Linked DNA regions of Homo sapiens. The protein of the gene in region 1 interacts with the protein of each later gene in a pairwise test. Each region holds a gene or a part of one and is shown in the gene's direction. Other genes may lie near its edges.

The links. Proteins that work in one complex are often made in the same cells at the same time.
Region 2: the proteins of NIPSNAP3A (region 1) and EPHX2 interact in a two-hybrid assay, tested with the Homo sapiens proteins (one large-scale study listed by IntAct).

What each region holds. Positions count from the first base shown.
Region 1 is NC_000009.12:104,757,569-104,760,621, forward strand, and holds the end of NIPSNAP3A (protein NipSnap homolog 3A), read left to right. Parts: intron 1-1,516; coding exon 1,517-1,603; intron 1,604-1,693; coding exon 1,694-1,770; 3' UTR 1,771-2,552; downstream 2,553-3,053.
Region 2 is NC_000008.11:27,536,046-27,539,660, forward strand, and holds part of EPHX2 (bifunctional epoxide hydrolase 2), read left to right. Parts: intron 1-738; coding exon 739-810; intron 811-2,613; coding exon 2,614-2,647; intron 2,648-3,615. UniProt on the Homo sapiens protein: Bifunctional enzyme. The C-terminal domain has epoxide hydrolase activity and acts on epoxides (alkene oxides, oxiranes) and arene oxides. Plays a role in xenobiotic metabolism by degrading potentially toxic epoxides.

The sequences.
Region 1 (3,053 bases):
TAGTTGTGCTCAAATGAAGTTTATGTTAATATTGTTTACATTAAAGAAACATTGGAAATGTAGTATGACCTTCTTTATGTAATACATACGTAATACAGAAATCGATATACATGTACGTCATATCGTGTATTTACATAAGCATAAGCAAATATGCTTATATATGTTTATTTGTATACATATACAACTATATATAAAAATACAGGCCAGGCGTGGTGGTTCATGCCTGTAATCCCAACACTTTGGGATGCCAAGGCAGTAGGATTGCTTGAGGCTAGGAGTTCGAGACCAGCCTGGGCAACAAAGTGGGAACCTGTCTCTACAAAAATAAAAATAAAATTAAAATTAAAAAATAAAAATACATATATACACAAATATAGAAAGAGATACACCAAATATAAAAGAGATACACCAAAAATAAAATGATTAGTTTGTTTTTAATCTGCATTTTCCTATACATCTAACATGTATATATTACAATTATAAAAACTTCATAAGCAATTTTGTACAAGAACAACATTTATTCCAGTATTTTATAGAATACTGAAATATTGGAAATAGTCTAAATAGTCAACAATAAGGGGTTGACATAATAAGTTGCTGTATCTGTAAGGAGGAATTTATATAACCATTAAAAATTAATATTGCCATAGAAAATACTGTTTTTAAAAACTTGTTACTAAGCTAAATCTGTTATTATAATATACAATAAGACCCTGATTTGGTTTTACTCATATTTTCTAAAGGAAGTACAATAAATTTCCATAGAGGTTTTCTCTATACTGTTAACATTATACCACTTTCAATTTTCTTCTTTGTATAATGTAAAATTTTAATAATAAGCACAATTTGCTCATAATTTTGCTTTTTTAAAAATCAAGGGAAAATATAGTAGGAAATCATAAAATTTGGGTCTTGTCTTGATTGTGCCTCTAGCTGTTTTACTTCAGTACTTCCGTTTTCCAGCCTTCTATTTCTTCATCTATAAAACCAATTTGATTAATTTATCAATTTCTCTAGCAAGTCTCTGACCCCTCTGAAATCTTATCAGTAACATATTTAGTTTTACCTTTTTGATATCACTATTTCGATTTAAAGAATAGGATGGTTTTGGCCAAGCGCGGTGGCTCACGCCTGTAATCTCAGCACTTTGGGAGGCTAAGGTGGGCGGATCACCTGAGGTCAGGAGTTCGAGACCAGCCTGCCCAACATGGCAAAACCCCATCTCTACTAAAAATACAAAAAAAAAAAAAAATTAGCCGGACGTGGTGGTGGGCGCCTGTAATTCCAGCTACTCAGGAGGCTGAGGCAGGAGAATCGCTTGAACCCAGGAGGCAGATGTTGCAGTGAGCCGAGATCGTGCCACTGCACTCCAGCCTAGGTGACAAGAGTGAAACTCTTGTTTCAAAAAAAAAAAAAAAAAAAAAAAAAGAATAGGATGGGTTTGATTCATTTTTCTGTTATTTCTTATTTGTTAAGGCCATATTTTTTAGAAGCTACTTGTGGTTTATTTCTGCAGTTCATGTTCTTTGGTGGAATGAGAGTGCAGATAGTCGTGCAGCTGGGAGACATAAGTCCCATGAGGATCCCAGAGTTGTGGCAGCTGGTAAGCTGTTTGACTAGGCATGAATTATTTTTAGAACAAATGTGTTTCAGTCAGTAACTCTATATGCCTTTCTATGAAATGTTTTTCCAGTTCGGGAAAGTGTCAACTACCTAGTATCTCAGCAGAATATGCTTCTGATTCCTACATCGTTTTCACCACTGAAATAGTTTTCTACTGAAATACAAAACATTTCATTAACTGCTATAGGATCTGTCTGCTAATGGTGCTTAAATTCTCCCAAGAGGTTCTCACTTTTATTTGAAGGAGGTGTTAAGTTAATTTGCTATGTTTCTTGCATTATGAAGGCTACATCTGTGCTTTGTAAGTACCACTTCAAAAAATAGTTCTGTTTACTTTCTGCATGGTATTTCAGTGTCTGTCATACATTAAAAATACTTGTCACTGTTTTAAGATCTTGACTCTTCATTTGTTTCAGAATAGCTCTTCTACTGTATTCTGACAACTCTTTGCTTTATAGCATTTTGTTGTATTCAAATGATAATGGTAGCATTTCCATGCTTGTGACAGCATTTTTAAGTTATTAATATATTTTATCAACCTTTCCATCATGTCTGTTTTCCTGGTTTTTTTTGGTTGTTTTTTGACCAGTAAAATTTATTTTGTAATACCAAATAGGATTTAAGAAAATTAACGTATTTCTTTACTATGGAAAACCACATTGTCATTTGTGACATCATCTATATTAAATATGGTTTTCACATTAGTTATTTGTCACTTACTTGGAAAATGATGCTGTTAGGTCCTGGTATTAAAAATCTAGAAAAGACTTGTTGGTTTATGTGCTGAAATGTCTTTATTTATAATTAATTTTAACTACTATTTACTTCATTTCGGATCCTGTTTAACAAAGATACTTGAGACATCCATTTGTTTTAATGAAATCTGTATGGATATGGAAATGCTTGCCCTAATAAAAGCCTACATATACCTTCTGGTTCTTTTTGTTGAGTTTTATATATTTATCTTTTCTGAAGCTATTGCTGTATTGCTATAAGGTAATGAGACAATACCAATTTACCGTCTTTACTGTAAATATTAAGTTACCTCAAGAAAATTGTATCCCACTAACCCCAGAATCAGAGTTTCTTTAGTACTGTCACAGATGTGGTAGTGTTTTCCTACAAACAACTTTAATTTTTAATTGAGTGCTTCCTATTAAAGTAGATTTGGTACTTCCAAGACTATGAAATCTATATTTACAGCTATGTTATTTTTACATTTCTATGTTATTTTATATTTTTATTTTACACTGCTATTACATATAGCAAAGATAGTAAATTATGAATTAGCCATCTGAGGGAAATTGGAAAAGCAGAAAGTATAGTAACCCCTCATTTATCTAGCTCCCAGGGATTCAAAGGACAGATGAGTTTCCTACTAAGGCAAAGAAGACCCAACACTGGAGGTAAAAACTTATCACGGAAGTTAG
Region 2 (3,615 bases), on another chromosome or scaffold:
CCAGAGAACTGTGTGTCGACTGGGTAATTAAATGCCATACTGCTCCCAAGAACTGGAAGGACCTGGTCATTTGTCACCAGGAAGGCTATGTGTCCCAGCTCTTTAACAGTGGAAACCTTGCTGCCCTGTCTGTGGAATACAATCTATTGGCAATCTAATGGTCTGTAACAATTAAGACCCAAGTCAAAGGAGTTGATTTTGAAGTTTCTACAGCAAAAAAAAAATTGTTTAAGTTTCTTTGTAAAGATGGGGTCTCGCTAGGTTGCCCAGGCTGCTCTTAAACTCCTGGCCTCAATATAGCGAAATTTAGATGCCTGGATGGAAGAGCATTTGGTATATAGTTTTTGGCTTTTCTGCTTGGTTTCTCAGAATCCTTGGAGCCCCTCTCTTCTTACCACCAGTCAGCCTCCAACCCATTCCTCTACCAGCCCCCTCCCAAGTCCTTTCAAGAGATTATTATAAGTAGTACCTTCTCATTATAGGAATATTGAAAAACACAAAGAAAGTGGCATCTATAAACCTGCCTCCCGTGGGGAACTACAGTTAGCATCTTGTATTTTATGCTAACCTTTTTAAAAGACATGTTTTATGATGAAAATTCAAATGGATGCTATTCTGATGAAACTTGGGCTGGATGGGGCACAGGTAGGGTGCTTGTTGCTTTCAGTCAGATGAAGGAGGGGTACAGTTTCCACGATTTCTAGGGGGTCCTTCATTTTGCTTTCTTGATTGTTTTAGGGAGTGGCTGAGGCTGAACTGGAACAGAACCTGAGTCGGACTTTCAAAAGCCTCTTCAGAGCAAGCGATGAGGTGAGGGGTGGGGATGGGTGCAGAAGAACAGGAGGGGGCAGTTGTGAAGGAAGTAGGGTACCTAGTGTGTGGCAGGGACCAGGAGTAGCAATCTGGCCTCCTTTTCTTTCATTTCTATAGTCAGGGTAATTGAGGTCCTCACTCTACTGGGAAAATTTACATCCTCGTTGACACACAAGGTCAGAGAATGATTATAATAATGATGGCTTGGAAATTATGCTATTACCATTACCATTTTAACATGCATAATTGGCTTACCCAAGTACAAAATTAATTGATGTCCCCAACCCTCTTCTTGAAGCAGAGGAGTTTAGAAACCTTTAACTCTGTAAGCTGCACCCTCCTGTCTTAGGTGTTAGGAGTCATCATCACTATTGTTGTTTTATATACAGTCAGTGCCTGCTCAAACTGTCCCATATTTTCTACTTTCTTTACTGATCACTTCTTGCATCTCACTCATTTGCATTGAGTTCAGTTTCTTTCTTCCTGAAACATCCCCTTTAGTAGTTCTCTCAATAAGAGTCTGTTGGTGGTAAATTCACATTTTGGTGCCTGAAGACATCTTAATTTTAATCTTGAAGAATCATTTATCTGAGTATAGAATTTTAGGTTATTTTCTTTTAGAAACTTCTGTCATTGCTTGTGAGTCAGCCTCGGGTCTAACCTCCTATACATTAATTGTCTTAGCCAATTAATTGTCCTGGACACTGCAGTGTCTGATCTGCAGTTTAACCTGTCTTTGAAGTTTTAATTTCAATAAATAGTTTTTTTTAATTTGTGAAAGTTTTATTTGGTTCTTTTTCAAATCATTCTGATCTCTTTTGATAGAGTCTTGTTGTATTCTTATTTTTCAGTTCCTTTTATGTTTTCAATTATTTTAAGTATATTCATTTCTAATTCTCTCTTGTTTCTCTCTCTCCCTCTCGCAAACTCTGTTATTGGATGTTTTTGGGGAGTCGTATTTACTGTTTGCTACATTTTTTGCCTCTTGCTGTGGGGCCTTTTTGTGTGAGTGTGGGTTTTGTAATTTTGGTTTATAAGCTCATCTTCAGCAGTACTTAATCTGTACCCATCTGCTTCAATTGGGCTTGAGGAAATGACCCCTTGAGTGGTTAAGGATTTCTTCTGCCAGGCATCCTGGTGGCATTACCAACCCAGGCTCACTTTGTTGTTATTGTTGTTGTTGTTCTTGTTTACTTCACACCTTGAGAGTTTCCAGATCATGCAGAGAATGCAAACTCAAATCCAAGCACTTGGGAAGGCAGGCCTAGAGCTATGAATTCCCAAGGGGGTGTCTTTTGGTTTCCTCTTAGTACCAAGCTGAAACAGACAAACTCCTTTAACATCTTTATCATCATGAGGGGATTTTTTTTCTAATCAATTTTTTCACTGAGGGTATAGCATGTCAGAGACCCCAGATTTACTGGATTTACCATGGAGGAGCATGGAATATCACATCTTCAACTTCTCATCATAGGCCAAGGTCTCTTTTCTTGTTCCCATTGGCTGATAAACCTAGGTCTTCATATTACCAAGGTCTGCAAGGGCCCTGGGGCAGTCTCAGCCCAGAGCTTTGGTCGTGAGCCCGCTCTTTACTTGACTTCTGTGAGGGGGTCCCTGGCTCTCTTGGGAGTTCCACATGTTTGTTACAGTCTGCGTGGTACTCAGAGGTCATTTGTCATAACAGGGTTTTCAGATGAGCATATTTCCTTTGTCATTTGTCGTAACAGGGTTTTCAGATGAGCATATTTCCTTTGTATCACCCATGACATCATTTGTAACTCTTTTCTTTTCTTCCTTCAGAGTGTTTTATCCATGCATAAAGTCTGTGAAGCGGGTAAGAGACATGCTTGGGAGAGCCATATCTGGAACCAGCTGAATGTTAAAGGGATGTTTCTGTCTCTGACTGCTATGGGCAGAAGCCCTGAGCTCTCCAGCTCTGAACTTTAAGTTGCCCAACCAGGGTCCCCTCGGCATGCATAGGGCTGACTCTAACCCCAGGCCTGAGCACACAGCCTGGAGTTCCTACCCTCTAGGGAGCTGTGGCTTCAAGATCTTAAGCAGTAAGAGCTTGGAGGAGTCTTAGAGCTTGTCCAGGGCAAAATCCACCCTCTACTGATAAGGACCCCAGGATTGAGAGCTTACCTCTATGGGGGTCACCTCGTGTATGCAGGTGGAGTGGAGTGGGGCCCCTGCCCAGGTCTCCTCCATTGCAGTCCACTGGCCCCTCTCCATCCAGGCGCCATGTTTCCAATTCCCCCACCTGGAGCTCATCCTTGTCTCCCTCCTGGGTTGGGTATGAGTGAAGGGTCAGAGTTGAGATTTGATTTGAGCTCATCCCCATGGCCCCTAGATCCAGCACTCTTCCCACAAGACCTTATTTTTGCTGCAGCACTGTGGCCTTGACAGCATTCACTTGTATTTTTATGAATAATGATGACCACTGTCACTTGTTTGGGCACGTGCTGACCATCTGTATAAAACTCTGGACTAACCCCCTTTAGATAAAATATTTGTGATCCTCGAAGCATTCTGAAAAATGCTACTATTTTTAATTTCCAAAGAGGAAAACAGGTCTCAGAGGGTTAAGTAACTTGTCCGAAGTGGCTGAGCTGGGGTTAAACTCCTCTGACCCTGCAGGCCATGCTCTTGTCACTGCTCAAAGAACATCTTCCTTCCCTCCCCCACACCCACATTCCCTTATTCCTTCACACCGTCTGTCACTCATTCATTCACCCATTCATTCATTCCTCAAATGCTGTGAGCACAGGCTGGGTATGAAGCTGGGGCTGCATGCTCAGCTAC